Homo sapiens: one gene and its partners. The protein of the gene in region 1 purifies or fractionates together with the protein of each later gene. This does not show direct contact. Each region holds a gene or a part of one and is shown in the gene's direction. Other genes may lie near its edges.

Region 1 (4,251 bases):
TCCTTGACCACAGATGCTAAGGAATGACTATTCATTTTTCAAAGTTTCCAGTGATTCTTCCTTTGTGAAGAAATGTTTCTCTTAAAGGTATTGATATATGTAGATGGATTAATGAAGGGTATATACCTTCCAACCCCAGTCACCTCAATTCACCCCTGTCAACTATGGGCCTGTAAGGAAGATAAACCAGGCTAAAATAAATAAATCTCAAATTATGTCATAGGAGAAAAGGTTGCAAGGGTAGAGAGATATTTACCCGGAAAAGAAAAAACTGGGAGGAGGAGAGATAAGACATGATTGTTGTTTCAGTGTTTCTGGGGAACTTTTATGTGGGAGTAGGATTAGTCTTACTATATAAGAAATGTGAGGAATTTTGATTCCATGGAAGAATTTTCTTATATAAAACTTTTAAGAACTAGAAGAGTTTTCCTGGACAGGTAAATCTTGCTCAATAAATGTAGGTAAAATCATGGTTACTTGGTATCTGTCAGGGATTCTATGGAGGCCCCTAAACATTGGATGTGGGAGAAGAATGCTGTGGGCTTATAAAATTTTGTATTTTAAAGAGTATCTGCTTTATGAACATTATGCAATTTGGAGAAAAGTTATGAAATAAGATTATTTCACCTTCTCCAGTTAGCTACTTCCATGATGTTATGGACCGTATAGTTGTTACAACTTCTTTTTGTGTACTGAACAGACAAATGAGATTAATATCCTAACCATTAGTCAAAGATGATGATAAACTAAGCTTTTGGTGCCAAGTTTCTGTTGTCAAAGTTCATTTTTATCCTAGTTTTGATGTTTTAAAATAGGGCTGTCTTTGTAATCAATATTTATATACTTTCCTCTTGTATCTAAAGAGGAGTGTTGTTGTCATCAGATGTAGAATGAAGATTTAAATTAGTTGCCTTACACTTGTTTCCGCAATGAAACATTTTATTTTAATGCATCTTTTTAGATATTTGTTGGAACTGACTTTTAAGTTACAAAGTCTATAACTTATTGAGATTTATATTTGGCATGAAGAACCTGACTATAAATGGTCCAGACAGGCAAGACGATGTAATTTGAGAAAAAACTTAGAAATGTTAAGAAACAACCCAGTTGTTGGCCTTGTGACCATAGATGATTGAGTTTTTGAAGTTAGTTGGCCTATCATCTAGTTTCCAGGCAGCATGATTACTGAAAGATTATAAGCAGGCAATCATTCGTTGTTTTAAAGCCCTCCTTAGGTCAGTGAGATCTTGTGGAGGAGACTCATACCTTACTTTGGCAAGTGATACGGTGGAAGTATGGTGCTAGTTACATTTATCAGTGGCTTGTTTTCAAGCTCTGGGATGAATGTGAAGTATGTAAACAAGGCTTAGCCATATAATATTTGTTCTACTACATTTACTATTCAAAACTATTTTCTTTACCATCGTATTGAGCTTTCATTTTAAAAGAATTCATTCTCTTTATGACTCTGAGAGTTATTACCTTCTTCAGCTGTCTTACGGTTTTCCTACAGGAAATAGTTCTTCAAGTAGTTGGTCAACAACTTCCTATTTCTTTATAAGCTGCTGAATAACTTCCTGACTCAGTATTCTATAATATCTCTGGTTTCAAGGAGTGTTTTACTTGCAAGTTTATTTTATTGACTCTGATGCCTTATAACTATTACCATGTTCAAAGATATGTGTTCTTATATATAATGTACCATGTAGGACCTTATAATTTGATTTAAGGAATCTGGATCAGTGATTTTAAAAGTTTGTACATTTGCATTGTTTTAATAATGTTCTAATAATTTTTAAAGCACAGTTTTGTTTCATTTCCATTGTTTATCATTTTCTGAATAACTGGCCACAATGTTTTTAGTCTGCGAAGATTCAAGGTTTTTTGTGGCTGTGATTTGATTAAGTTATATTGAGTAGCTTGGTATACAATTTAAAAAGGATATGTTTTTCAGAGATTTTTGACATTGCATGGCATAAAACTACCCATATTCCTATATTAATTTGCCTTGTAGATGTGATTGATCGCTATACATAGGCTGATTCTTTTTTCTTTCTTTCCTTTTTTTTTTTTTTTTGAGACAGAGTCTTGCTCTGTTGACCAGGCTGGAGTGCAGTGGCACGATCTCAACTCACTGCAACCTCTGCCTCCTGGGTTCGCGTGATTCTCCTGCCCCATCTCTACAAAAATACAAAAATTAGCCGGGTGTGTTGGCGCACACCTATTGTCCCAGCTAATCAGGAGACTGAGGCAGGAGAATTGCTTGAACCTGGCAGGTGGAGGCTGCAGTGAGTTGAGATTGCACCACTCCACACCAGCCTGGGCGACAGAGCCAGACTCTATCTCAAAAAAAAAAAAGACTATGAACATATACAGTGTATGTTGTTATCATATACAGTGTACCTGGTATTTATACATTGTATACAGAACATATACAGTGTATCTTCATAATAAAGATTATGCCTCTTTAAAAGGAAGTTTCATGAAGAATAAGGCTATACTGTTTCTTTCTGTATCAAGTATAACCCAGAGTTTCCCTTTAAAACTGAAAAGCTTGTAATTTTGCCATTAAATGTTAAGTTGCACACGTGCACATGTATACACAAACAAAAAACCAGTTCAAATTGCAATCACGAAGTATTTCCCTATTTGAGGGAAGGCCAGTCTCTGCTTGTTTGTCTTGCTATTGAGGCTGAGTGGAGAGAGAAGATGAAAGTACGCCCTTAGCTCTGGGGGGTGGGGGAGAGCTTACTTCTGCTCAGTGGGTGGGCATCCCAGGGAAGAATGGCACACAGTGCCACAGTGATTTAGGGAGAGAACCCTGGAGAAACTGTATTCACCAGTGGCAGAAGAAAAACAGTTGGAAGATAGTAGATGTGACAGAGTAAATAGAACATAGAGATTAACATATTCCCTGGGAAAAATAATGGAATTTTTTTAGTGTGAACTAAGAAAGAAGTTCACTAGAACTTCTTTGCATTATTTAATTAATTTGCAGCATCATTCAAAGAACAGACTGTCACTTGGTGTGTTTAAAAATTATGATTCTTAGTTCTAGAAAGAATTCTAGAACTATCTCTGGAAGTTTAAATGTAGCAGACTCAATTGACTGCAAGGTGGTAGGCTAATTTTCTTTTTAAAGTCACATTTAAAAAAAAATACCCTTTCCTAAAGCTTTATCTTAGCCATTAAAAAAAAACCCAAACATCTAGATAGCATTTAAATAGTTGAAACTTGGAAAAAAAAAAAACCCAGGTTTTTACAACCCTAAAATAAGTCCTCTTTAGTTATGTAGAGAAATATTTTACTTTGTAGTTAGAAAAATAATGTGAATTCACAGCTTAAAATACTCAGGGTATCATGACTCTGCATTGCCTTGTACCTTAAGGCTTTGAGGGGAGGTAAACTCTAAACTGTTTTATTGCCAAAATATATATAGAAATTTAAGCTTAGGACCAATCAAAGTGAAGTCATTTTAAAAATCAGTTGCTAAGATTTAAGATTATTCAAACTTAATGCTACCCTCTGTAATAGCATAATTTAGCCATTAATTGTGGCTTGAAAGTTTTTAATAATAGCTGAGTAGCATTGTATAAAGGGAGGTCTTAAAGAGCTGTGTCGTTCTATAACTGTGGTTACTAGGTGATGCACTTCTTACAAAAAGGGCTTCTGATTCTAGGATTAATCAGAACTACAAGCCATGAAAGGGACATTGCCGTTTCTATGAAGAAGAATTGCTTCATGGTTCTGGTTGCTCAAGTGCTGTAGCACCAAGTTTCCTGGGAACAAGTACTGCCACCGTGGAAGCACTTTTATTTACGTAGGGCTTGACCCCTTCTAAATGCAAACAAAGAAGTTTGGTTTAAATCACAGCAGTCCTCCCCACCTCCCCTTTAATATTCTAGACAAGGAAAATGGTCAGTATTTAATCCTCATTTTGCTCCTAGCATGAGAAGAATCATAATTTTTAAACACACCAACCAAGTGATAGTCTGTTGTTTCTTTGAATGATGTTGCAAATTAATAAAATAGTGCAAATGGCAGTATCTATTATTTGGGTTTTCTTCTACCAGATATTTTCAGTGCTTTATTTGTGGTTAGTGCCATTACTTCATGTGCTGTCACTTTAATTTGTCTCTCTATCTCTTTATGGGATGTTAGTCACTCGACTATCAAGTTCTTCAGCAGGATTCTCAGTTGGGGGTGGGTGAGGGGACATTTTATTAAAAGCTCCTTCCTTTGTCTTCTTCC
Region 2 (4,251 bases), on another chromosome or scaffold:
ATTGTGCAGAGTATTCTAAGAAGTTAGAAATTGGTGTGTATAACTACATTTTCAGTGATGCAATTTAATGATTAGTGAGTGAGATACTGTTTTTATTGAGAGCCTTGATTTTTATAAAGAGTAAAAATATGGCTGCATTAAGGGTACAAACAGAAAAGTGTCTTAATGTCTAAGGAGGGCATATTAGCTACACTATAAAAACAATTTTTTTCTGTATTTCTGAAAAGAATTTTGTTGTTTCTCAGTTGTTTTCCAAAAGCAAAGGAAGTCTTAATGTTTTTTTCTATTTCGTGTTATGTGTGATTTGTTTATATGCTTGGTAATATGAGTCTAATGGAATTTAAAAATATAAGTTTGGGTAGGATAGTATACCCTTAAAAAATAAATAAATAATTAGAGAGAGAGAGAGAGAGAGAGACCTGGGCACAGTGGCTGTTGCCTGTAATCTCAGCACTTTGGGAGGTCAAGGCAGGAGGATCCTTTGAGGCCAGGAGCTTGAGACCAACCTGGGCAACATAGAGAGACCCCAACTCTAAAATATACATACTATATCTAAACTCAGCTAGGCGTGGTGGTGTGAGCCTGGAGTCCCAGCTACTCAGGAGGTTAAGGTGTGAGGATCACTTGATCCCAGGAGGTTGAGGAGGCAGTGAGCTATGATTGTGCCACAGTGCTTCAGCCAGGGTGACAGAGTGAGACCCTGTCTCTTAAAAAAAAGAAAAGAGGCTGGGTGCAGTGGCTCATGCCTGTAATCCCAGCACTTTGGGAAGCCAAGGTGGGCAGATCACGAGGTCAGGAGTTCAAGACCAGCCTGTCTAATATGGTGAAACCCCATCTCTACTAAAAATACAAAAATTAGCCGAGCATGGTGGAGTGCGCCTGTAGTCCCAGCTACTCGAGAGGCTGAGGCAGGAGAATCGCTTGAACCCGGGAAGTTGGAGGTTGCAGTGAGCTGAGATTGCGCCACTGCACTCCAGCCTGGGTGACAAAGTGAGACTCCATCTCAAAAAAAAAAAAAAAGAAGAAAGAAAAGCAAAGCAAAGCCCAGGCCTGTACCTACTAGAGGTCCTGATAACTTCACCACTGAATTCTATCAAACATTTCAAGAAAAATTAATACAGTTCTTCACAAAGTCTTCAAAAATGAAAAAGAGGAGAAAATACTTACAAACGAATTTTATGAGACTGGTATTACCCTGTTGCCAAAAACCAGGAAAAGACATTACAAGAAAAGAAAACCATAGACAAATATATCTTACAAATGTGGAAGCAAAAATCCTCAACAAAAATACTAGCAAACTGAATCCAGTAACATATAAAAATAATTATATACCATAAACAAGCAGGATTTATTCCAGGAGTGCAAGGTTGGTTTAACATCCAAAAATGAATTAGTGTAAATAATGTAATGCATTATATCAATAGAATAAAAAACAAAAATCACCTTGTCATCTCAGTAGACACAGAAAAAGCATTTGACAAAATTCAGCATGTTTTTCATGATAAAAACACTAAATAAACTAAGAAGAGAAGAGCAGTTCCTCAACCTGATACACAGCAGTTATGAAAAACCCACAGCTAACTTCATAATAGTGAGACTGAGGCCAGGCACAGTGGCTCACGCCTGTAATCCTAACACTTTAGGAGGCCAAGGTTGGAGGGATCACTTGAGGTCAGGAGTTCAAGAACAGCCTGGCCAACATGGTGAAACCCTGTCTCTACTACAAATACAAAAAAAAATTAGCCAGGTGTGGTGGTGCATACCTATAATTGTAGCTACTTGGGAGGCTGAGGTGGGAGGATTGCTTGAACCTGGGAGGCAGAGGTTGCAGTGAGCTGAGATAGCACTACTGCACACAATAGGCTGGGCGACAGAGCTCAAAACAAACAAACAAACAAACAAAATAGTGAAAGACTGTATGCTTATCCTTAAGATTAGGAAAAAGAGAGATAAGTCTACTTTCACTACTGCTATTCAGCATTGTACTGGAGGTTCTAGCCAGGGCAATTAGGCAAGAAAATGCAATAAAATACATCTATGTTGGAAGGGAACAAGTAAGATCATCTCTGCAGATGACATGATCTTGCATATAGACCCTGAGGAATCCACTACCAAAGTATTGGAACTAATAAATTATTAGTTTAGTAAGGTTATAGGATACAAGATCATTACACAAAACTTAGTTGTAAATGTATCCACTTGGAATGAACAATCTGAAAAGGAAATTAAGAAAATTCCATTTACAATAACCTAAAAAATAAAAATACTTATAACAAAAGAGGTATCTTTTTTTCCATCCTCTGACAGTTTAGTAAAAGAAAGTATAAAACTTATACTCTAAAAGCTGTAAAACATTTTTGGTTTTGTTTTTTAAATTAATTTTTTTTGAAACGGAGTCTCACTCTGTCGTCCAGGCTGGAATGCGGTGGCGCGATCTCGGCTCACTGCAACCTCTGCCTCCCAGGTTAAAGCGATTCTCCTGCCTCAGCCTCCGGAGTAGCTGGAGCTACAGGTGTGCACCACCATGCCTGGCTAATTTTTGTATTTTTAGTATAGAGGGGGTTTCACCATGTTGGCCAGGCTGGTCTCGAACTCCTGACCTCAGGTGATCCACCCGCCTCAGCCTCTGAAAGTCCTGGGATTACAGGCGTGAGCTAGTGCGCCCAGCCTGGCCTTTTAAAATATTTAATTAATTGATTTTTTTTTTTCTCGGACTTGCACTGAAGTGAGAACAAGTGCAGTGGTGCAATCATATCTCAGTGCAGCCTAGACCTTCCAGGCTTAAGTGATCCTCCTATATCAGCCTCCCAAGCAGCTCAGACCACAGGCATGCGCGATCATCCCTAGCTTTTTTTTTTTGTTTGTTTGTTTTTTAATTTCTTGTAGAGACAGAGTCTCCCTGTGTTACCCAGGCTGGTCTTGAACCTGACCTCAAGCAACCTCCCATGTTGGCCCCTCAAAGTGCTGGGATTACAGGTGTGAGCCACCGTGCCTGGCCTGTAAAACATTTTTAAAAGAAAGAAGATATAAATAAATAAATAAATAGAAAATAGCTCTTGTTCATGGATCATAAGACATAACGTTGTCAAATTGGCAGTATTTTGGAAATTGATCTACACGTTTGACATAATCCCTGTCAGAATCCCAGTTTATTTCATTGTAGAAATTGACAAGTCTCCAGGCGTAGTGGCTCATGCCTGTAATCCCAGCACTTTGGGAGGCCGAGGCAGGCGGATCACCTGAGGTCAGGAGTTCAAGACCAGCCTGGCCAACATGGAGAAACCCTGTCTCTACTAAAACTACAAAATTAGCCGGGTGTGGTGGCACATACCTGTAATCCCAGGTACTCGGGAGGCTGAGGCAGGGAATCGCTTGAACCTGGGAGGCGGAGCTTGCGGTGAGCTGAGATCACGCGCCACTGCACTCCAGCTTGGGCAACAAGAGCGAAACTCCATCTCAAAAAAAAAAAAGAAATTGACAAGTCAATTCATAAATTCCTATGGAATCGCAAGGGACCCACAATAGCTAAATCTTGAAAAAGAACAAAGCAGAAAGACTCACGCTTTGTGATTTCAAGACATACTATAAAACAACTAATCAAGACAACGTCACCAGGCACCGTGGCTTATGCCTATAATCCCAACACTTTGGGAGGCCAAGGCAGGCAGATCACTTGAGGACAGGAGTTCGAGACCAGCCTGGGCAACATGGCGAAATCTTGTCTCTACCAAAAATACAAAAATTAACCGGGCGTGGGGGTGCACACTTGTAGTCCAAGCTGCTTGGGAGGGCTGAGGCACAAGAATCCCTTGAACCCAGGAGGTGGAGGTTGCAGTGAGTCGAGATCGTGCTATTGCACTCCAGCCTGGGGGACAGAGCGAGATTCCATTTCAAAAAAATAAAAATAAAAAGACAGTGTGGTACTGGTATAAGGATAAATGTGTAGATCAGTGGCATAGAATTGAGAGTCCAGAAATAAACCCAGTGGAATAGAGTTGAGAGTTCATGGTCACCTGATTCTTGACAAGGGTGCAAAGACCATTCAGTGGGGGAGAACTGTCTTGTCTTGTCTTTTCTTGCTACATGCCACAGACTGTGAGAAGGAATAGTCCTTTCTTTTCTTTTTTCTTTTTTTTTTTGAGATGGAGTCTCGCTCTGTCATCTAGGCTGGAGTGCAGTGGTGCAATCTTGGCTCACTGCAACCTCCGCCTCCTGGGTTCAAGTGATTTTCCTGCCTCAGCCTCCTGAGTA
Region 3 (4,251 bases), on another chromosome or scaffold:
TGTATTTTTAGTAGAGACAGGGTTTCACCATGTTGGCCAGGCCGGTTTCGAACTCCTGACCTCAAGTGATCCTCTTGCCTCAGCCTCCCAAAGTGCTGGGATTACAGGCATGAGCCACCGTGCCCTGCCTATTTCTGTAACTTTTGATAAGTCATTTGATCTGTTGTTGTTGTTTTCTCATAGTAACAAAGTAGAAGTAATTTTCTGCCTGCTTTACTAGATAAATTAAGGGGAAAAAAATAAGATACGTAAAAATGTTATTTGTTATTAAAAAGAAAGTTGTTATTTTAAAGGTTCTATAAAGACATAGAGTGCTTATTAGAAATTGAGCTAACACATTCAGGAAAGGATAGGAAGAGTTTGCTGAAGTTCTTTCTTTAGGGATTCTTGTGTACCGATAGCACAGTTAAAGAGCAAACTCATACCATTTTTATATTTCTGTGTATTTGACTAAGCTTACTGGCTTCAATGATTAACTGTTATCCCAAATATGGATTATCTTTCAGCCAACTCAGGGAATCACAGCTACTGAGTAGTGTGTGTCAGATCTCTTGGGTGTGCTGGAGTGAGTAAAAGGGGAATGAATTACTGTGTTCATGCTGAGACTTAATTGAACGGGTATTCAGTTGATCTAGGTGATGGGCACTTTGTTACTTTTATTGTAACAAATTTGTATATTTAGTTGCTTTAAAACTTTATTTCATGCTTTCATTAGGCCTTGTGAAAAAGGGTAAAGAACAAAACACACAGCGAAGCTTTTTTCTCAGAATGAAGTGTACCCTAACTAGCCGAGGAAGAACTATGAACATAAAGTCTGCAACATGGAAGGTAAGTGAAAATTATTTGTGATTGATTATACACTTTATTTATACATAGACATTGTAGTATTAAGATAACTTTAGAATTGTGAGGGAAGGTTTACAGTTCCATGGTGTTTGGTTATGTAACATTTATATCTTCAACTCATTTGCATGTGATCTCCAAAATGCAGAACCGTGTAGTAATTTGCCAATTTGAGGCACAAACTTAAATTACGTGAATTGTGGCACTGGTGTTCCAGGCTTAATCAGTTGGCTTTGCCAGCCACACAATATTTGAATCCTGATAGGGCTTAATTTTCTATTAATCATGGTTTTATATCTTTGTTCAATGTTGAAACATAGTCATCAGTGCAAGAAATAACTATCAAACAGCCATGATGATGAGATGAATGAAAAAGCAGCCTAGACTTTATACGAGGGGAATTTTTTAAAGAGTAATGTATAGGCCCTGGGCAGGAAGTAGGTCATAGGTGGTATCATAGGAAAAATGTTCATTGATTTTCAAAAACGTGATTAATCCACTAGTGACAGTAAATTTTATCAAAGCTTACTGGCCATGTCAGACTCAACTACTTATCTCTGCTTTTTTTTTCCCTAGCATTGTAAATATTTTTTTTAACTGCTTTGTTCTTCATACACAGGTATTGCACTGCACAGGCCACATTCACGTATATGATACCAACAGTAACCAACCTCAGTGTGGGTATAAGAAACCACCTATGACCTGCTTGGTGCTGATTTGTGAACCCATTCCTCACCCATCAAATATTGAAATTCCTTTAGATAGCAAGACTTTCCTCAGTCGACACAGCCTGGATATGAAATTTTCTTATTGTGATGAAAGGTAAATTAGATCTAAAATGTGAATTTGAAATTTTTAATTAGTCTACAGCATTACTGAATATTCACCATAGCAAAGATTCAGCGCTGGCCATGCATGGTGGCTCACACCTGTAATCCCAGCACTTTGGAAGGCTGAGGCAAGCGGGGGGTGGATCATCTGAGGTCAGGAGATTGAGACCAGCCTGGCCAATGTGGTGAAACCCCATCTCTACTAAAAAATACAAAAATTAGTGGGACGTGGTGGCAGGCACTACTCAGGAGGCTGAGGCAGGAGAATCGCTTGAACCTGGGAGGTGGATGTTGTGGTGAGCTGAGCTCACACCACCACACTGCAAGCCTGGATGACAGAGCAAGACTCCCATTTCAAAAAAAAAAAAAAAAATTACTCAATGTTAAACTATACTTTCCACTAAATTGAACAGAATGATACATCCTATAATATTAGATTAACTTTGTAAATTAATTCAGCCACATTTATTGAACATTTACTCTGTACTATGAACACTTACTTTACTAGGTGCTATCCAGAAGTTAAGATGAGTCTTTTTTTCCCCAATAGGGGCTCTACTTACTTAGAGAATTTCAAAGATATGCAGTGTGTATTTTGAGCAAAGATAGATTACCTTAGGTTGGGGACTAGAAAGCCAAGTGTTTGTACATCTCTTCATCCTACATATTTTCCCTGAGAAGCTTCAACCTTGCCCATGGTTTCTATTACTATTTCCCACATTTCTTCCTGTAACTAATTCTATTTAATTGCCAACTTAATATTTCTATCTGGATATTCTTCTGTATTGTAAACTAAGTATTACTGTAACAACTGTACTACTACTGCCCCCAAACAACATCATCATCAAAAACTGCCTTTCTTCCTATAATGCTTATTGTGGTTTAATACACCACCATACACACATGACTCCAGCAAAACTTTGGAAGTCATCTGTAACTTTTCTTTTACATTCATTGGCTACATACAGTTGGTGTCTAAATCTTACAGATTTACTATCTACATATATCTCTTGATCCATTTCCTCCTTTCCATCCTTGCACTCCTGCCATTGAATTCATTAGCTCATTATTACTCTTGACTTGAGTTGTTGGCATAGCTGCCTTTTTGCCAACAGATTTGTACCCTTATAATCTTTCATCTAAGTTGCCAGAAAGTGGGTGTCCTAATGTGAAAATCAGATCATGTCATTCTGTTGTTGAAAATGCCTCAAATGCTTCCCTCCATCTTTGCACACAAAAATATTTTGTTTATAAAAATACTAGATGAGGGAAGTAAATTTTTCATTTATCAAAAGAAGATGTGTATTTTAGAAGACTGAAAAAAAATAGACCTACACAATACAATCTAAACTTAGCATGGCAAACAAAGATATTTATGCTCTGGCCCTAACTCTGTCTTTGGAATCAGATGTTAGATTCACTCATGGCTTGCAGCTCTGATACTTACAATGTGGCCTTGGCCTTGGTACTTAACTGTTGTAAAATTCACATTCCTTATCTATAAAATAAGAATCATGGCTGGGTGGGGTGGCTCATGCCTATAATCCTAGCACTGTGGGAGGCCGAGGTGGGTGGATCACCTGAGGTCAGGAGTTTGAAACCAGCCTGGCCAACATGGTAAAACCCCATCTCTACTAAAAATACAAAAATTAGCTGGGTATGGGGGCACATGTCCGTAATCCCAGCTACTTGGGAGGCTGAGGTAGGAGAATTGCTTGAATCCAGGAGGCGGAGGTTGCAGTGAACCAAGCTTGCACCACTGCACTCCGGCCTGGGAGACGGAGTGAGACTCCATCTCAAAAAACAAAAACAAAACAAAAAAAAGACCTCAGAAGGATGTTGTCAGGATTAAAGGAGTCCATTGAGTGCCTAGTACAGATAGTGAATGCTTCACTACTGGTGTCAACTTTAAGAAAATGAATATAGAAAAGCTAAGAATTATTTTAAGGTGTTTACTACTAGCATGTAAATGTATGATGGGACAGAGATTTCCATCCTATTTTGAGGAATTATTTTTTATTTTTTTGAAAACTTAAGGTAACAAAGTAGAGAGGAGGCCAGGGAGAAAGGAAGGTAGTGGAGCAAAAATGAGAAAGGGAGTGACATTCCCCTCTAGTTATAGCAGAAAATTAGCAAAATGATCATGACAGGAGGTAACAGTAAAGACAGCCAGCTCATATATCAACCAAGACAGTTTTGAGTTTGACCAGCAGACTGTTATTTTCTGGTTTAGAGCTCTTTCCAGGAACTTCTTGCATCTATAACCCCTGAGAACCAAGCTATGGAAAAAATTTTGCTCAATTTTAAGAAAATCTAACATATCAAGCTCCTCAACTCCAAAATATTCCACAAATAGCTGCTATTTACTATACTGAGTAATAATCATTTAAAATTATTCAACACTTTATTTGAGCATCTACTATGTTCATGGCACTAAAGTAGAAATGAAGATGAACAGTTCCTGCCTCAAAATAAATGAGTAGTATACTGCTTTAGATCATGGGTTTCCTAGTCCATTAAAAACACTTTTTGGTCATATTTTCTGGACACCCCGACCCTTTTGGTATAGAATATAACC
Region 4 (4,251 bases), on another chromosome or scaffold:
GCCAAGTGGGAAAATGTTACTAACCTTTGGGTTGAGGGAGGAGGGTGTGTAGTGAGTGATACGTGTAGCCTCTGGCGGGTGGCAGCCCCTGATGTGCGAAGGCCCCATCTCCCGCTGCAGCGCTCGGCACCCCGCATGCCGAGGGGCATGTAGCCCTCTGGTTAGTGATCTGCCTCCAGGGTCAGAGAGCCCTGGGTGAATCTTGGCTTTGCCACCTGCTTTATGGCCGTGGCAGCTTACTGAACCTCTAAGCCTCAGTTTCTTCATCTATATCCTGAGGCTAATAATGTCTCGATCCTAGAACTGGGCCTTAAAGGATGGGTTCCATGTCCTTTCATTATTTCCTGGCCTCTGCGGATTTGCCTTCCCTGGGTGGGAGTGGGAGATCCCCTGACACACGCTGGTACCCAGTGTAGGGTCGGAGGCAGCTGAGTCCTCATCTAGTTGAATGGAGGGAGCCAGCATTCCAGGCAGGAATAAGAATGGCTAAGGTTTGGAAGTGGGGTCTGGAGCATGGCATTGAGAATCCGGGGCCTGCAAGGTGGACCCAGGATGTGTGTGGGGAGATAACTCTTAGGGGGGTTAGTGCTGTGGGCAGCCCCACAGGGCAGACCCCAAAGTCCCAGCTTTTCAGACTTCAGTGCCCACAAGCAAGAGTGGCCCAGGTGGCCTGTGTTGCCTCCAGGGCTGGGGAGCGCTGTGTCAGGGGAGGTTGCGTGGACACTGAGAAGGGGCATTCCTGAATCCACTGAGGATGGGGCTTGTGGACACCCCAGACAGCTCTGGGAATCTGGTTGAGATGTGGGTTCTAAGACACGCCCCACATTACAACTGGGAAGGGAAAATGCCCAGCTTTGAATGTGTGTGTTCAATCCAATCTGGTTGAACCCAGAGCCAGGTGGGAAGCGGGACTTGACCTCACAGGTGGTAATTTGCTCTTCAGGAGGAAGGGAAGCGTCTGCGGACTTCACTGAGCATTTACTGCCTCTGAGGTCTGAGTGCCTCCTGAGCAGTGATTCTTGGAGTCTGGCTTGGGGGGTGGTGGTTCTGGAGCATCACTCTGGTGACCACTGTGGTGTGGGCTGGGCTGGGGGAGCAGTGGGTGGAAGCTGAGGGCTTCCATCGGGAGGAGGTTCTGGCCAGGAGAGTGGCCACAGGAGAGAGCCTTCTGTAGGTTCCAGACCTGGTGAGTCTGCTCCAAAGTCCTGCTCTCAGCTGCTATCTGCCTTCTCATGACCTCTGTCCTCTAGGGCAGGCGTCCTGAGCTCTTGGGTGGGGCTCAGGCAGGACAGCGCCTGTGGGAGATGCTGCCGCTCCCAGGTGGCTGCTGTGCCCTCCATCCCCAGCGCTGATGCTGCTCCCCGCTACTCCCATCCCTACATCTAGGGTGGTTGGGATCAGCGTCTGGGATCTAGGCAGGGACCACTCTGGGGTTCAGAATTCTCATCTCCCTGCTACATAACAACAAGAGACTCTATTGGCATCCCCAAAGGCTTGGGGATAGAGGAACAAACTTGTCTGCTAAAGGGACTTGATGCTTCTTTGATCATAACATGTCAGAAATGGTCCCCCTCCCCTAGGCAAGCACCCAGGATTGGACACTCATACATCCCCTGTCCTCACAGGCAGAGGGTTCTGGGCAGGCCTGGAGCCGGGTCAGCCGGGGATGGGTGCCTGTTCTTCAGCAGGTCACCGCTGACCTCCAGCTCTTGAGGGGAGCAGAGCAGAAAGATCAGGATTGTATTGACTGCCTGTAAGTGTTCTTGGGTTTGCCTTATGTGTACTGTTCAAACAGAGGCGTGGAGCATGTTTAACTACAGTAGATGGCCCTGGGGAGGAAGCGAGGGTCTGATTCCCTTTCCTTCTTCCTGATTCCTCAACGGCAGAGACATTCTGCCATTTCCTCAGTTCAAAGCTGGGCATTTTCCCTTCCCAGTTGTAATATGGGGCGTGTCTTAGAACCCATGTGGACATTTGCTGGCAGGTCTTCCCCTCTCTGCCCCTGGAAAAGCCCTTGAGTAGACTGTGTCTGCGGCTGATGGTATCTGAGAGTGGAACAAATGCCAGGCCCGGGAGAGCCGGAAACCCCTGAGCAAACTTCACAGAGTCCTAAGGCACTAAGAGACTTGAGAAAGACAGGGGCCCACCCCAGGGCCAGCCACATGGGTGCTGGAGCCCTCCCTGCCCACCTGGGGCCCTCTGTCATTACTGTCTCTTCATCTGGGAGTTTATGAGCCTGGGACTCTGGTCCTCTTGACTCCCAGCCTTGGCACAGAGTGGCAGGTTCTGAAAGTCTTTTGGATGGAACAAACGTGTGCCTGGCACTGTGCTGACAGCAACTGGGTTTTCTCTCACTCGCCTCCCACAACAGTTGCTGGTCCCCATTGGGGTCCCTGTTTCATCTAAGGAACAGGCCCAGGATGGTGAGGCAAGTTACAGCAGGGGCAGGGTGGGGCTGGGCCAGGTCAGGGACTCCCGTCCAGTTGAACCCGGAGCCTGTGCCAGCCGGTATGTCCCGGTTCCCTTGCCCTGTGGGTGTGATTATTCATCATGCCCCTTTCCCTCAAGGAAATGCCCAGGTTGGGCTCTTAACCTCTTCAGGTGTGCTGGGAGCTCAGAGGAGGGGTGGCCGAATTGGGAACTGAGATGGGCCTTGAAGATGGAGTTAGTAAAAGCAGAAGAGAGCAGGTAAGAAGAGAGACCAGGCTTCGCAGAAAGAACAGCTGAGCTGGGCGGATCACCTGAGGTCAGGAGTTCAAGACCAGCCTAGCCAACATAGTGAAACCCCATCTCTACTAAAAATACAAAAATTAACCAGGTGTGGTGGCACGCGCCTGTAATGCCAGCTATTTGGTAGGCAGGAGAATCTCTTGAACCCAGGAGGCAGAGGTTGCAGTGAGCCATCGCGCCACTGCACTCCAGCCTGGGCCACAGAGCAAGACTCATCTCAAAACAAAACAAACCAAAACCAAAACCAAACGAAACCAAAACAAAAAGAAGAGCCGAGCAAAGTCATGCGGTGGGCATTTGCCTGCACCTTGGGTTCAGCTGGGGTGATGGATGAGTGGGGACCCAGGACAAGCACTGGGGCAGTGAGCAAGGCCAGGGCCGGTGGGGTCTTTGAAGCCTCTTCTACTGTCCCTGAAGTCCCTAGGTTGGGCTTTCCTTCGGGGTGTGGGCAGTTCTAGCTCTAACCTTTTCTGATGGACTTTCCAAGAGGACCCAGAGTTACCTGTTAGAAGTCCTATTAGAAACTGGAAACTTTTTACAGCTTATCCCCATCTTTCCCCTGCTCCCCACCTGATAAATATGCAGACACATCACCTGCTGGGCCTGAGTGGCCTTGTCAGCTGACATGCTCCCTGCCTGGGGGTCTTGGAAGATTACTAGTGTTCTGTGGATTGGACGATCCAGACAGAACCAGTGGCTTCAGCCCACTTGAGACCCAACCATGTGTAAGTCTGTGCCTCTCCCTGGGCCCTCATTTTCCCATCTGTAAAATAGGAAGCTTGGATGGGCTGAGCTGAGAGTCCCAGGGACCCTCATCTCTTCTGGCCCTTTGACTCAGAGCCACAAGGAAGGGGTGGCCTCCCCTGCCCATCCTGCCTCCTATCGGTCACTCAGTGGTCCTATGAGCCAGCTCTTTTATATTCCTGGGAATTCTCTTCCTATGCCCTACAGCCTGGGTTTTATCACCTGCCTCGTGGTTGGTCCTTGCCTTGGGGCAGGTGTGGGGATGGTGAGGCTACCTGTGACCACATGGGTCCCACTGTGGGGCCTAGAGATGGTGACCTGTCTAAACGCTGTTTGAGGCTGAGACCCTGGCCCAGACCAGCCTCCCCTCCTGCAGGGCCCCAGTGGAAGTACCTGCCTCCCCTATCTGATTGCCTCTGCTTAAAGGACTCAGTAAGGGGTTTAGTGCAAGAGGAGAACACTGAGCTTCAATTCCTGGTGCAGGTTTGCTGGGGACAAGGCTGCATGTTCCTGGACTCGAGGTTCCTCTGCTTGCTGTCCTGTCTCTCTCCCAGTCCAGAATGTTGTTGCAATGCATAGTCAGTGTTGGAGGGAGGAGTGAACAGTCCCGGAAGGACTGACCAGGTGCCAGATAGTGGTTGACCCACTTTGCCCACCTGTCCTTCTTTTCTCATTTGTACACTTGGCACCGAGTTAAATAAGTTACTCCCCGCCCCCCGCCCCCACCCCCAGCAAAATCAAACCTCCCCAAGAGGGTGGTGATTTACACAACCCCAC
Region 5 (4,251 bases), 7.3 Mb from region 1:
CTTCCACGTGTCATTGTTGTTTCAGCGTCTGTGGGTTTATCACGTTAGATGTCTGTTTGGGATCCTGGGCCCTGAGGGTATGAATGGGACTAGAAAGTAAAATTCAGAAGTCGGGAAATGAATGAGTCCAAAGCATACACCCTGTAGTGGGCAGAGGAGGGAGGGTAGGGAGCGAGGAGAACCAGACCCAGTCACAATCACCCACTCACAGGATTCTAGGCCCAGCCTTGTTCTTATCCTCCGTGCAAGGGGAAATGACTCTTACCCCAGAGAACAGGAGTTCTGTGGGATTTACCCAGTCCCACTGTTCCCCTTCTCTGCCTTATTTGGAGTCTTGGATGGGCAGAGGGAGCCCCTTTCCATCCCCGTCACCCCTCCTTCTTTGCTTTTACACATATTTATTGAGCATCTAATAATTCTGTGAGCAACTACCCTCCCCATTACAGACTACCCCTTCTGGGTGGGGGAATAGGTTCAGAGAACCTCAGATAGCTCCAATCTTAATGTTCTTTTCAAAGAAAACCTCTGTCATTTCAGAATTGCTTTTTTCTTTTCAGTAAGAGAAAAAAGGAAAATGAAACATTTTTGAGAAAGGTACACATTTTGAGCTCTTATTGACTAGGTGCTAAATGGCCACAGTCAAATTGGTAAAAATGACTATTTCCAGCCATTAGTTTTGTGACTTTTCAACCACAGATGCATGCTTTATATTTATAATCAATGATTTTTAAACAAAGAAAATAACTTCTGTAAACCAACTGGTTTTCCCATCTTTATGCATCTTGATGGTGTTGGTCAGAATTTTTAGAGAGTCAGCTTATCTTTTATGTGTGCAGAAGGTTTTGAAAATTTTTAAAAATTTCAAAGCAATGTAATATTTCTTTCAGAGTTTTATATATTTACTATCTAAGTTGCTTTCCTCTAATTGTGTTTGCTCTCCTTACTTGGCAATGTAAACATGAATTTTCAGATTTGTTTCCAGCTCCATGTAAAGTCTCCAAAAGTAAATTTGTTGAAAATGTTTCTAGCCACTAATTTCTATATTGATGATTTTGTGCACCATAGTGTGAATTTATAATTTTGCAAATATGTTTAAAGCATTTTGTTTGCTTTCTACATCATTTGGCCTTTAGTGTATTTTCAATGACACTTTGCACTTTTCTGAGCCACATTCTCACATATGCCCTCTGGTTTGTTTTTATCTTTACTCATCTTTGCTGAGACCTTCTTCTTAAAGACATATGAAACTTGCAGGAGTATAGAGCGATGGTTAGGGGCATGGACTTTGGAGTCATAAATACCTGAGTTAGAATCCATTTTCACTATTCACTAACTGAGTATTCTTGGAAATGTCACCTAACCCTGGTTTCTTCATCTAGAAATTGAGGATAATAATACCTTGTGCACAAGTTGTGAGAACTAAATGAGAGACCATGTGTACCGTGCCCTACCCAGTCCCTGTATGAAGTAAATGCTCATTAATGTTGATAGCTGTCATTAAAGGGGCCTCTATTTTTCTGTTTTGGGCTATTCTGTAAAAAAAAAAAAAAAAGCTTTAAAGTTTTCAGGCGGGGCGCGGTGGCTCACGTCTGTAATCCCAGCACTCTGGGAGGCTGAGGCGGGTGAATCACCTGAGGTCAGGAGTTTGAGACCAGCCTGACCAACGTGGTGAAACACCATTTCTACTAAAAATACAAAATTAGCCAGATGTGGTGACGCATGTCTGTAATCCCAGCTACTTGGAAGGCTGAGACAAGAGAATCGCTTGAACTCAGGAGGTGGAGGTTGCAGTGAGCTGAGATCACGCCACTGCACTCCAGTCTGGGCAACAAGAATGAAACTCCATCTCAAAAAAAAAAAAGTTTTTCAGTATGATTGTACATTGGAATATGAAGTTAAAAGATGTGAAATACTTGGCTACATCATGTCTTACTAATTAAATACTCATGTAGTCAGAGCCATTATTGTGCCTTTCATCTTGAGCTATATCACTTAGATGATGCAGTGATCTTATTTTTACTAATCATTGTTAGTTAGTAGTAATTAAATTGTCAAAACCAGTGGCAGGAATAGTTATCTGTGACTGGTTGTTTATAGTCAGACAGATGCTTGCAGTGAAACTGCTTCTTGATCTTCTCGTGTCTGCCCTTGCCCTCACTGCACCCACCTCACCTGAACTTGTCAAGGACAGTGTCTGCCTTCTTCTTTCTGTCCTGGACCCTGGCATGCCTATTACATTGTCCTGACCTGCATCCCAGGCAGGGCCCATAAAACAAGAAGTGAGACAGAATACAACATGAAGGAAGACTTCAGCTTGGAGCCTCACTCTCTGAGAGGACCAGTCTCAGTTTTAAGTATTTACTGAGCCCCCATTTTACTGTAAAATACTGAAGTAGGCATTCTATGCTGTATGGATGATAAACAGAAATAAAACCTAAACTCTGATTGGAAAAGTGAGGTATAGGACAAGCATGAAAAAGTACAAGCATGGAAACACCAACAAATACAATAATAATAATAATAATAATAATAATAGTGTCCATAAGTCAGTAGATTAAATCTCTAGGTGCCCATTTTACATATTCATAACATGCCATGTAGCTACATACATAATGTAGTCAGAAGGGGGAGGGGACTTGATTTTTGAATTTTATTTTGTTTTCCTTAGATGCTGCTTAATTCTATCTAGTTAAGGAAGAGAATTGGACAGAATTCAGGAGAGGAAAAGTGGGTGAAGGAGTTTGTGGAGTTTTAGCACGGCACCCTGTGATCACCTCTCCACAAGCATTTACACCTTTCTCTGTATGGGCATCAGATGAGATTGATAACTGAGCTGGGGAAATTGGGAGGGAAAGGCTTCATGAGCCAATGCGAGATGCAGAGCTGATCTCTGTTCCAGCATGAACACCAGCCTCTCCATTCTGTGTCTGTTTGCATTGAGACAAAGCAAGAAGGTTTCCTATGATCAAACGCATATCCTTGTGTTGCCAGGGACACCACGATCATCAACCACTCACGGAATGGCAGCTACGGAGAGAGCTCGCTGGAGGCCCACATCTGGCAAGAGGAGGAGGAGGTGGTGCAGGCCAACAGAAGGTGTCAGGACATGGAATACACGTAAGGGACGACTATGTGTGACGTGTGGGGCCCGCTGCATTCACACTCCAGGCCTTCCAGAACAGATTGCTTCTCTGTCCTGTTCTGAAAGGCTGTGAGCATGAGGTCTCCAAAAACTCTCCTCCCCCATGCTGTGCCATGGAGAGAAGGAAAAGGTTCCAACCTAAGCACGTGGTTCCACTCAGCAATGGATCTGGTGCCGGAGTTCTCTGGGGGAAATTGCGTGTCACCTGCCGGTTTTAAGATGCAGGCTGAGTCTAGTGACAGAAGAATTTAGATGTCTGTGTTATTTCTTGGTGTCTATCTCTATGACATTATGAGCTGAAAGGGGGAAACATTATATCCCAAAGATTCAGAGTTTTTGAGCCAGAATTTATATATTCCAGTCCAAAATAAAGAACATATTTAGCTAATGCACTCTTCTGATGGGCTACACAAAATTTCCAGCAGACTTTTTGACATAATAAAACTAGCCTGTCCCCCTTCACTACCTAAGGGCTTGTGGAACCCTGGGAGCCCTAGGCCTCTTATTTTGCAGATGTGAAAATAGGGCTGAGTAGTTGAGCCATTGATAGATAGGCTCAGTGAGTTACTATCAAAGTTGTGAAAATAACTCAGCATTCTTCCAGAAAAATCATCTTCTACCAGAGAACCTGTTCATCTTGGTTCTTTTTTCTTAGAAAATAGAGAAATTGACTTTAGCTGAAAGCTCACCCTGTTTGAGGCTTTAGAGTTTTTATGCTTCCCTATCCCCTACCTACCCCCGGCCCCCACCGCCAATGCTAGACCCTCTAAATATGGTCCCCAGCCGACTTCGGTCCAGGAATGTGGCCACGGTCATTCTAACTGTACCTCGCTGAAGTCCCAGTCTCCCAAGGTGCCAGAGAAGGTGTACTCTTTTGACATATGACAAAAGACCTGTCTTAACAATTTGGAGATTATCAACATTTGAAGACTCGTACTGTGCTTCATCCTGTATCCCTAAATTACAATTAAAGTCTTTGGGACAGCCTGAGATAAATGTTTCAAGTTTTTCTAGCCAAGTGGCTTTTTATGGAGACTGTTTTGTTTTGTTTTACAGTATTAAAAATCTCCATGCCAAAATCATAGAGAAAGATGCTATGATTAAGGTCC
Region 6 (4,251 bases), on another chromosome or scaffold:
GGATACAGAGTAGGTATACATATTTACGGGGTATATGAGATATTTTGATATAAGTATACAACATATATAATCCCTTTATTTAATTTTATCTTCCCCCCAATGATCTAAAACTATTTGCTTGTCCTTTTATGTCTTATAGTTAAATTCAGTCACCAACTAAGTTGAAGTTACTTCTTATTTTTGCATAGCTCCAGCTCTGATCTTCATCTCATGTTTTTGCCTGAGCCTCTGTTTTCATATTACTTAGTTGGTTCTGGGAGCATACTTTAATAGCCGAGTCAAGAAAAATACTAGCTGCCCCGTCACCCACACTCCTCACCTGCTAGTCAACAGCAAATCAACACAACAGGAAATAAAATGAAAATAATAGACATTATGCATGCTCTCTAGAAACTGTCAATTGAACTGTATTTGCTCATCATTCCTACCATCTACACCACCAAAATCAACCAAATTTATGAAAAAAAACAGCCCCAACATAAAATTATACACAGATAAACAGGCTATGATTGGTTTTGGGAAAGAAGTCACCTTTACCTGATTTAGGCAACTGTGAAATGACTAGAGAATGAAGAAAATTAGACGTTTACATCTTGTCATAGAGTTTGAAGATAGTGCTGGATCTTTCTTTTTATAAGTAAGATCAATAAAAACTCCCTCATTCTGTAGAAGTTATGATTTCTTTTCTAAGAGACCTTTAGAAGTCAGAAAAAATGTGTTTCAATTGAGAAAAAAGATAACTGGAGTTTGTGTAGTACTTCCCAGATTATAAAATGCTTTTGTATGTATTATCTAATTTAATCCTCAAAACTTCTTCAATTTAGCATGTTGTCATGACACTGCAGAGGCTGAAGCTCAGAGAGGCTGAGCCCTCTGCTAACAAGTCCTACTGCTAACAAGTGATAAAGCCAGAGCTGGAAGTCACATCTGGACTCCAAACCTGATGCTTCTCAGCCTGTTGCCCCTTTTAGAGTTCCTTTTTAATTTCTGCTTTTATGACTTGCTAGATTTCTACCTACCACACACACTCTTAAATGGATAATTCTGCCCTAAGGATAAGTGATTACCATTTGGTTCAGAACTAGAACTAATGAATTTTAAAAATTATTTCTGTATGTCCATTTTGAATTTTCTTATGAGAAATAGTATTTGCCTAGTGTTTTCATATAAAATATCGCATGATAATACCATTTTGATTGGCGATTTTCTTTTTAGGGCAGTAGCTCGCCTGAGCCAGAGATTTCCCAAAGCTGAGTTTGCAGAAGTTTCCAAGTTAGTGACAGATCTTACCAAAGTCCACACGGAATGCTGCCATGGAGATCTGCTTGAATGTGCTGATGACAGGGTAAAGAGTCGTCGATATGCTTTTTGGTAGCTTGCATGCTCAAGTTGGTAGAATGGATGCGTTTGGTATCATTGGTGATAGCTGACAGTGGGTTGAGATTGTCTTCTGTGCTTTCGTCTGTCCTATCTTCAATCTTTCCCTGCCTATGGTGGTGGTACCTTTCTGTTTTTAACCTGGCTATAAATTACCAGATAAACCCATTCACTGATTTGTAACTCCTTTCAGTCATGCTCTAACTGTAAATGAAGGCTTAAACTGAAGTAGAACAGTTACAAGGTTTTACTTGGCAGAACATCTTGCAAGGTAGATGTCTAAGAAGATTTTTTTTTCTTTTTTTAAGACAGAGTTTCGCTCTTGTTTCCCAGGCTGGGGTGCAATGGTGTGATCTTGGCTCAGCGCAACCTCTGCCTCCTGGGTTCAAGTGATTCTCATGCCTCAGCCTCCCAAGTAGCTGGGATTACAGGCATGCGCCACCACACCTGGCTAATTTTGTATTTTTAGTAGAGGCGGGGTTTCACCATATTGTCCAGACTGGTCTCGAACTCCTGACCTCAGGTGATCCACCCGCCTTGGCCTCCCAAAGTGCTGGGATTACAGGCATGAGCCACCTTGCCCAGCCTAAGAAGATTTTTTGAGGGAGGTAGGTGGACTTGGAGAAGGTCACTACTTGAAGAGATTTTTGGAAATGATGTATTTTTCTTCTCTATATTCCTTCCCTTAATTAACTCTGTTTGTTAGATGTGCAAATATTTGGAATGATATCTCTTTTCTCAAAACTTATAATATTTTCTTTCTCCCTTTCTTCAAGATTAAACTTATGGGCAAATACTAGAATCCTAATCTCTCATGGCACTTTCTGGAAAATTTAAGGCGGTTATTTTATATATGTAAGCAGGGCCTATGACTATGATCTTGACTCATTTTTCAAAAATCTTCTATATTTTATTTAGTTATTTGGTTTCAAAAGGCCTGCACTTAATTTTGGGGGATTATTTGGAAAAACAGCATTGAGTTTTAATGAAAAAAACTTAAATGCCCTAACAGTAGAAACATAAAATTAATAAATAACTGAGCTGAGCACCTGCTACTGATTAGTCTATTTTAATTAAGTGGGAATGTTTTTGTAGTCCTATCTACATCTCCAGGTTTAGGAGCAAACAGAGTATGTTCATAGAAGGAATATGTGTATGGTCTTAGAATACAATGAATATGTTCTGCCAACTTAATAAAGGTCTGAGGAGAAAGTGTAGCAATGTCAATTCGTGTTGAACAATTTCCACCAACTTACTTATAGGCGGACCTTGCCAAGTATATCTGTGAAAATCAAGATTCGATCTCCAGTAAACTGAAGGAATGCTGTGAAAAACCTCTGTTGGAAAAATCCCACTGCATTGCCGAAGTGGAAAATGATGAGATGCCTGCTGACTTGCCTTCATTAGCTGCTGATTTTGTTGAAAGTAAGGATGTTTGCAAAAACTATGCTGAGGCAAAGGATGTCTTCCTGGGCATGTAAGTAGATAAGAAATTATTCTTTTATAGCTTTGGCATGACCTCACAACTTAGGAGGATAGCCTAGGCTTTTCTGTGGAGTTGCTACAATTTCCCTGCTGCCCAGAATGTTTCTTCATCCTTCCCTTTCCCAGGCTTTAACAATTTTTGAAATAGTTAATTAGTTGAATACATTGTCATAAAATAATACATGTTCATGGCAAAGCTCAACATTCCTTACTCCTTAGGGGTATTTCTGAAAATACGTCTAGAAACATTTTGTGTATATATAAATTATGTATACTTCAGTCATTCATTCCAAGTGTATTTCTTGAACATCTATAATATATGTGTGTGACTATGTATTGCCTGTCTATCTAACTAATCTAATCTAATCTAGTCTATCTATCTAATCTATGCAATGATAGCAAAGAAGTATAAAAAGAAATATAGAGTCTGACACCAGGTGCTTTATATTTGGTGAAAAGACCAGAAGTTCAGTATAATGGCAATATGGTAGGCAACTCAATTACAAAATAAATGTTTACATATTGTCAGAAGTTGTGGTGATAAACTGCATTTTTGTTGTTGGATTATGATAATGCACTAAATAATATTTCCTAAAATTATGTACCCTACAAGATTTCACTCATACAGAGAAGAAAGAGAATATTTTAAGAACATATCTCTGCCCATCTATTTATCAGAATCCTTTTGAGATGTAGTTTAAATCAAACAAAATGTTAATAAAAATAACAAGTATCATTCATCAAAGACTTCATATGTGCCAAGCAGTGTGTGCTTTGTGTAGATTATGTCATATAGTTCTCATAATCCACCTTCCGAGACAGATACTATTTATTTTTTGAGACAGAGTTTTACTCTTGTTGCCCAGGCTGGAGTGCAATGGTGCCATCTCGGCTCACCACAACCTCCGCCTCCCAGGTTCAAGCGATTCTCCTGCCTCAGCCTCCTGGGATTACAGGCATGCACCACCATGCCTGGCTAATTTTGTATTTTTAGTAGAGATGGGGTTTCACCATGTTGGTCAGACTGGTCTCAAACTCCTGACCTCTGGTGATATGCCTGCCTCAGCCTCCTAAAGTGCTGGGATTACAGGCATGAGCCACTGTGCCCAGCCGACAGATACTATTATTATTTCCATTCTACCGAGAAGGAGACTAAGGCTCTGATCATTTAAATAAGTTGCCTAAGGTGATGCAGTGATATAAGTAGCAGAGCTAGGAATTGAGCCTTGGTAACTTTAACTCTGGACCCCAAGTCCTTAGCTACTAAGCTTTACTGCATGGGGTTTAGTCAAATTAAGACTTTTGGAATATGAGTTACTTTTGAGATTAGCTTTGTGATATTTTTTGTGCTCATTTGTCCAACAAAGTCTATTTTATTTTCATCTTAAT
Region 7 (3,904 bases), on another chromosome or scaffold:
GACATTCAGACCAGAGCAGCGTTACTTTCCTTGGGTGCCTTCCACAGTATTATATCCCAAGGGGACATCCCATAGATTCTTTTAGGTTACTCACCAGTAAAGCTCTTTAGTCGTTTAAACTCTATTTGGTGACTTTTTCCTCGTGTAGTAAAAACCTGTGTGCCATTTTCTCTGCGTTTCATAAATTCCTATCTCCTTCTTTTAACCTGAAAGACAGAGTGCTTTTCACAGGTGCAGCAGCTCTTGGGTAACTGGCTGCATCTCGAGGCTGAGGCCCACGTTTTTACCCCAGCTTGAGGCTGAGGTGGGCTCTGTGCTCCTGGTGCTGCCAAGCCCTTGCCTGCTATCCACAGGCCTGAGGTGCAGGCCTCCCTCAGACAGTGACGGGTTACACATGGGGTCCCTGATGCCACTCAGACCCCTGGCACTCCACACTGCCCTTGGGGCTGCTCTGAACTTCTCCTTGCCTTGTGAGTGGTCAACACTGCCCAGTGCAAGTGAGGCTGGAAGGCTTTGGGGACCTCCAAGTTTTCAGTAACCCTGTGTTACCCCAAGGGAATTGTTTTGCCCACAGATTTTAGCAGGTTGGAGCTTTCAATCTGTCCTGTTTTGGGGGTTTGTGGCTTAGATGCTGGGATGAGAGAAGCCACCTAAATCCAAAGGAAGGAGTTTGCAGCGTGTTGCATCAGCCAGCCAGCAGACACCCAGCTGTCATTTGCATTCTCAGCAACAAAAGCCTTGGCCCCTCATGACTATGGGTGTCACCTGCCCTGTGTGGCCCAGGGCCAGGTGGAAGCCATCCATGACTGAGTAAAATCAGAGTAGCATCCTGCTCTGCTCTCCTGTTTGCAAGGTTAGGAGTTGGCTGAAAACCAGCTGAAGAGTGGCAAGTGTGAATGCTGTTTGTTGAAGGCTGATGGGATGGTTTTCAGCCATTGGAGTTCTGGTGTGGGCACAGCAGGGACAGTTGCTGGCAAGATGGGTGTGTGTCCTGCCCTGACAGTCACGTGCCTGACAGGCTCTAGACCTAGCAGGGCCACTCAAGGATTTACTGTCCCCTTGGCCATGGGAGATGGGAGAGGGACAGTCTTCCTGTGCAGCTGAGCACTGCAGTGTAGGGGAGAAAGAACTCTATTTCTCCCCTTTTAGGGCCCCAGGCTGGGCGGGAGAATTAAACTGACATAAGCTAAACTAACAGGGTCAGGTGCAGTGGTTCATGCCTGTAATCCCAGCAACTTGGGAGGCTGAGGTGTAGGAGGATTGCTTGAGGCTAGGAGTTCGAGACCAGCCTGGGTAACATAGTGAGACCACCATCTGTACAAAAATTAATAAATTAGCCAGGTATGGTGTTGCATCTGTGGTCCCAGCTACTTGGGAGGCTGAGGTGGGAGGATCACTTAAGCCCAAGAGGTTGAGGCTGCAGTGAACTGTGATGGCACCACTGCACTCCAACATGGGTGACAGAGTGAGGCCCTATCTCAAAAAAAAAAAAAAAAAAAAAATAAAGGGAGATGGGTTAATGGGAGAAAAAACATAGGATTTTTTTTTTTTGAGATGGAGTCTTGCTCTGTTGCCCAGGCTGGAGTGCAGTGGTGCGATCTTGCCTCACTGCATCCTCCACCTCCTTGGTTCAAGTGGTTCTCCTGCCTCAGCCTCCCGAGTAACTGCGACTACAGGTGTGCACCACCACGCCTGGCTAATCTTGTATTTTTAGTGGAGATGGGGTTTCACCATGTTGGCCAGGCTGGTCTTGAACTCCTGACCTCAAGTGATCCAACCACCTCGGCCTCCCAAAGTGCTGGGATTACAGGTGTGAGCCACCGTGTCCAGCCAGGCATATTAATTTAACACAAGTTTTATACAGCACAGGCTCCCTTATAATGAAATGAAGACTCAAAGTGGCAAAATTAAATCACTTATATACTGACTTGGACAAAGACTAGCCACTTGTAAAAAAGCAACTACATGATGTGGGGATGCTTGAAAGAGTTGTTTTCACAAGGTCTGTACCAAATTCTGTCGGCCTTGACTTCCTGTCGTCCTTGATGATAAAATCATTTTATTTGATATGGGGAGGGCGTCTTTCACTTGGGAATTTCATTTGCTTTTAAGAAGCAGAATGGAGGTCAGGGTGATCTTGCACTGTTTTTTGATTTTTTTTAAAAAAGGCCTTGCTCTGTTGGCCCAGGCTGGAGTGCAGTGGTATGGTCATAGCTCACTGCAGCCTCAAACTCCTGGGCTCAAGCGATCGTCTTACCTCAGCCTCCCGAGTTGCTGGGACCATAGGTGTGCACCACTATGCCTGGCTAATGTTTTTGATTTTTAGTAGAGACAGGTTTTCACTGTTGCCCAGGCTAGTCTCGAACTCCTGGGCTCAAGCAATCCTCCCACCTCAGCCTCCCAAAGTACTGTGATTACAGGCATGAGGCACCGTGCCAGGCCTCTTCTGTTATTGTTTTTTTTTTTGTTTTTTGTTTTTTTTTGGCTCACCGCAACCTCTGCCTCCCAGGTTCAAGCGATTCTCCTGCTTCAGCCTCCCAAGTAGCTGGGACTACAGGCGTGCGCCACCACGCCCAGCTAATTTTTATATTTGTAGTAGAGATGGGGTTTCAGCAGGTTGGCCAGGATGGTCTTAATCTCCGGACCTCATGTTCTGTCTGCCTCAGCCTCCCAAAGTGCTGGGATTATAGGCGTGAGCCCCCGTGCCTGGCTTTTTTTTTTTTTTTTTTTTTTTTTGAGATGGAGTCTCGCTCTGTCGCCCAGGCTGGAGTGCAGTAGCATGAACTCGGGCTCACTGCAACCTCCGCCTCCTGGATTCAAGTGATTCACCTGCCTCAGCCTCCCGATTAGCTGGGATTACAGGCGTGCCACCACGCCTGGCTCATTTTTGTATTTTTAGTAGAGACGGGGTTTCACCATGTTGGTCAGGCTGGTCTTGAACTCCTGACCTCATGATCCGCCCGCCTTGGCCTCCTGGAGTGCTGGGATTACAAGCGTGAGCCACTGTGCCTGGCCTAATAGTCGATGTGCCTGAGCAGCATGTTTTGGAGTGGCATGTTCTTAACTCCTTCAAGAGCAAACAGGTTCCCCTTCCCCTGGGGAGGGTGGGTGAGGACACAGGTCTTTTCCTGCCACCCGTTTGCAGGGACACGTGATGGACCGTAGGAAGAAGGCACTGACCGACTACAAGAAGCTGCGGGCCTTCTTTGTGGAGGAGGAGGAGCATTTCCTGCAGGAGGCTGAGAAGGAGGAGGGGCTCCCTGAGGACGAGCTGGCTGACCCCACTGAGCGGTTCAGGTCACTGCTGCAGGCGGTCTCGGAGCTGGAGAAGAAGCATCGCAACCTGGGCCTCAGCATGCTGCTGCAGGTGCGGGAGCCCCGCTGGGTCTGCCCACCATCGGGCCAGGGTGGACGCAGGCAGCAGCGAGCCATTGGGGGACCATTGCCCGAAGTCAAGGCTTAAAAGCCCAGCCTGACTCCCACTGCCGTGGCCTTGCAGGGCTGAATTTCGGGAATGGGTGGGTGGTCAGGGAAGGTGATGGGAAGGGGTTTTAAGTTGAGGAGGGTCTGAGGTGTCCCTGACCTTCACAAAGGAGGGCACTTGGCATCCCGAGTGCCCGAGCATGGAAGGCTCCTGCCTCGCCCTGGGGTCCTGAAGGCAGAAGCAGCCAAGAAACCCAACCTCAGGGCTTTTCTTCTGCCTCTGCCCAGGGCCTGGCCTGAACCCCAGACCCTGCAGCAACCCAGATGGCCCTGAACGGTTCAGTTGCCCGTGCCAGCCATAGGTGACAAGGCTTTGGCCCTGGGGAGACGGAAGTCTGGGCCAGGCCCTGGGTTTGTTGTGCTCAGGACAGTACCTCATGCGCTGTCTCATGTGCGCTCTCTCTTTCGCTCTCTCCTTTTG

What was found.
Region 2: the proteins of YAP1 (region 1) and NF2 purify together in Homo sapiens (affinity purification with mass spectrometry; 7 studies listed by BioGRID and IntAct, with this or other methods). This does not show direct contact.
Region 3: the proteins of YAP1 (region 1) and HIF1A purify together in Homo sapiens (affinity purification with western blotting; 3 studies listed by BioGRID and IntAct, with this or other methods). This does not show direct contact.
Region 4: the proteins of YAP1 (region 1) and CCDC85C purify together in Homo sapiens (affinity purification with mass spectrometry; 5 studies listed by BioGRID and IntAct, with this or other methods). This does not show direct contact.
Region 5: the proteins of YAP1 (region 1) and AMOTL1 purify together in Homo sapiens (affinity purification with mass spectrometry; 8 studies listed by BioGRID and IntAct, with this or other methods). This does not show direct contact.
Region 6: the proteins of YAP1 (region 1) and ALB purify together in Homo sapiens (affinity purification with mass spectrometry, with the first as the bait; 3 studies listed by BioGRID). This does not show direct contact.
Region 7: the proteins of YAP1 (region 1) and RNF187 purify together in Homo sapiens (affinity purification with western blotting; 3 studies listed by BioGRID, with this or other methods). This does not show direct contact.

What each region holds. Positions count from the first base shown.
Region 1 is NC_000011.10:102,116,405-102,120,655, forward strand, and holds part of YAP1 (transcriptional coactivator YAP1), read left to right. Parts: intron 1-4,251. UniProt on the Homo sapiens protein: Transcriptional regulator with dual roles as a coactivator and corepressor. Critical downstream regulatory target in the Hippo signaling pathway, crucial for organ size control and tumor suppression by restricting proliferation and promoting apoptosis.
Region 2 is NC_000022.11:29,609,639-29,613,889, forward strand, and holds part of NF2 (merlin), read left to right. Parts: intron 1-4,251. UniProt on the Homo sapiens protein: Probable regulator of the Hippo/SWH (Sav/Wts/Hpo) signaling pathway, a signaling pathway that plays a pivotal role in tumor suppression by restricting proliferation and promoting apoptosis.
Region 3 is NC_000014.9:61,725,991-61,730,241, forward strand, and holds part of HIF1A (hypoxia-inducible factor 1-alpha), read left to right. Parts: intron 1-715; coding exon 716-828; intron 829-1,462; coding exon 1,463-1,665; intron 1,666-4,251.
Region 4 is NC_000014.9:99,593,973-99,598,223, reverse strand, and holds part of CCDC85C (coiled-coil domain-containing protein 85C), read left to right. Parts: intron 1-4,251. UniProt on the Homo sapiens protein: May play a role in cell-cell adhesion and epithelium development through its interaction with proteins of the beta-catenin family. May play an important role in cortical development, especially in the maintenance of radial glia.
Region 5 is NC_000011.10:94,861,744-94,865,994, forward strand, and holds part of AMOTL1 (angiomotin-like protein 1), read left to right. Parts: intron 1-2,991; coding exon 2,992-3,117; intron 3,118-4,198; coding exon 4,199-4,251. UniProt on the Homo sapiens protein: Inhibits the Wnt/beta-catenin signaling pathway, probably by recruiting CTNNB1 to recycling endosomes and hence preventing its translocation to the nucleus.
Region 6 is NC_000004.12:73,410,781-73,415,031, forward strand, and holds part of ALB (albumin preproprotein), read left to right. Parts: intron 1-1,215; coding exon 1,216-1,345; intron 1,346-2,639; coding exon 2,640-2,854; intron 2,855-4,251. UniProt on the Homo sapiens protein: Binds water, Ca(2+), Na(+), K(+), fatty acids, hormones, bilirubin and drugs. Its main function is the regulation of the colloidal osmotic pressure of blood. Major zinc transporter in plasma, typically binds about 80% of all plasma zinc.
Region 7 is NC_000001.11:228,489,908-228,493,811, forward strand, and holds part of RNF187 (E3 ubiquitin-protein ligase RNF187), read left to right. Parts: intron 1-3,145; coding exon 3,146-3,367; intron 3,368-3,904.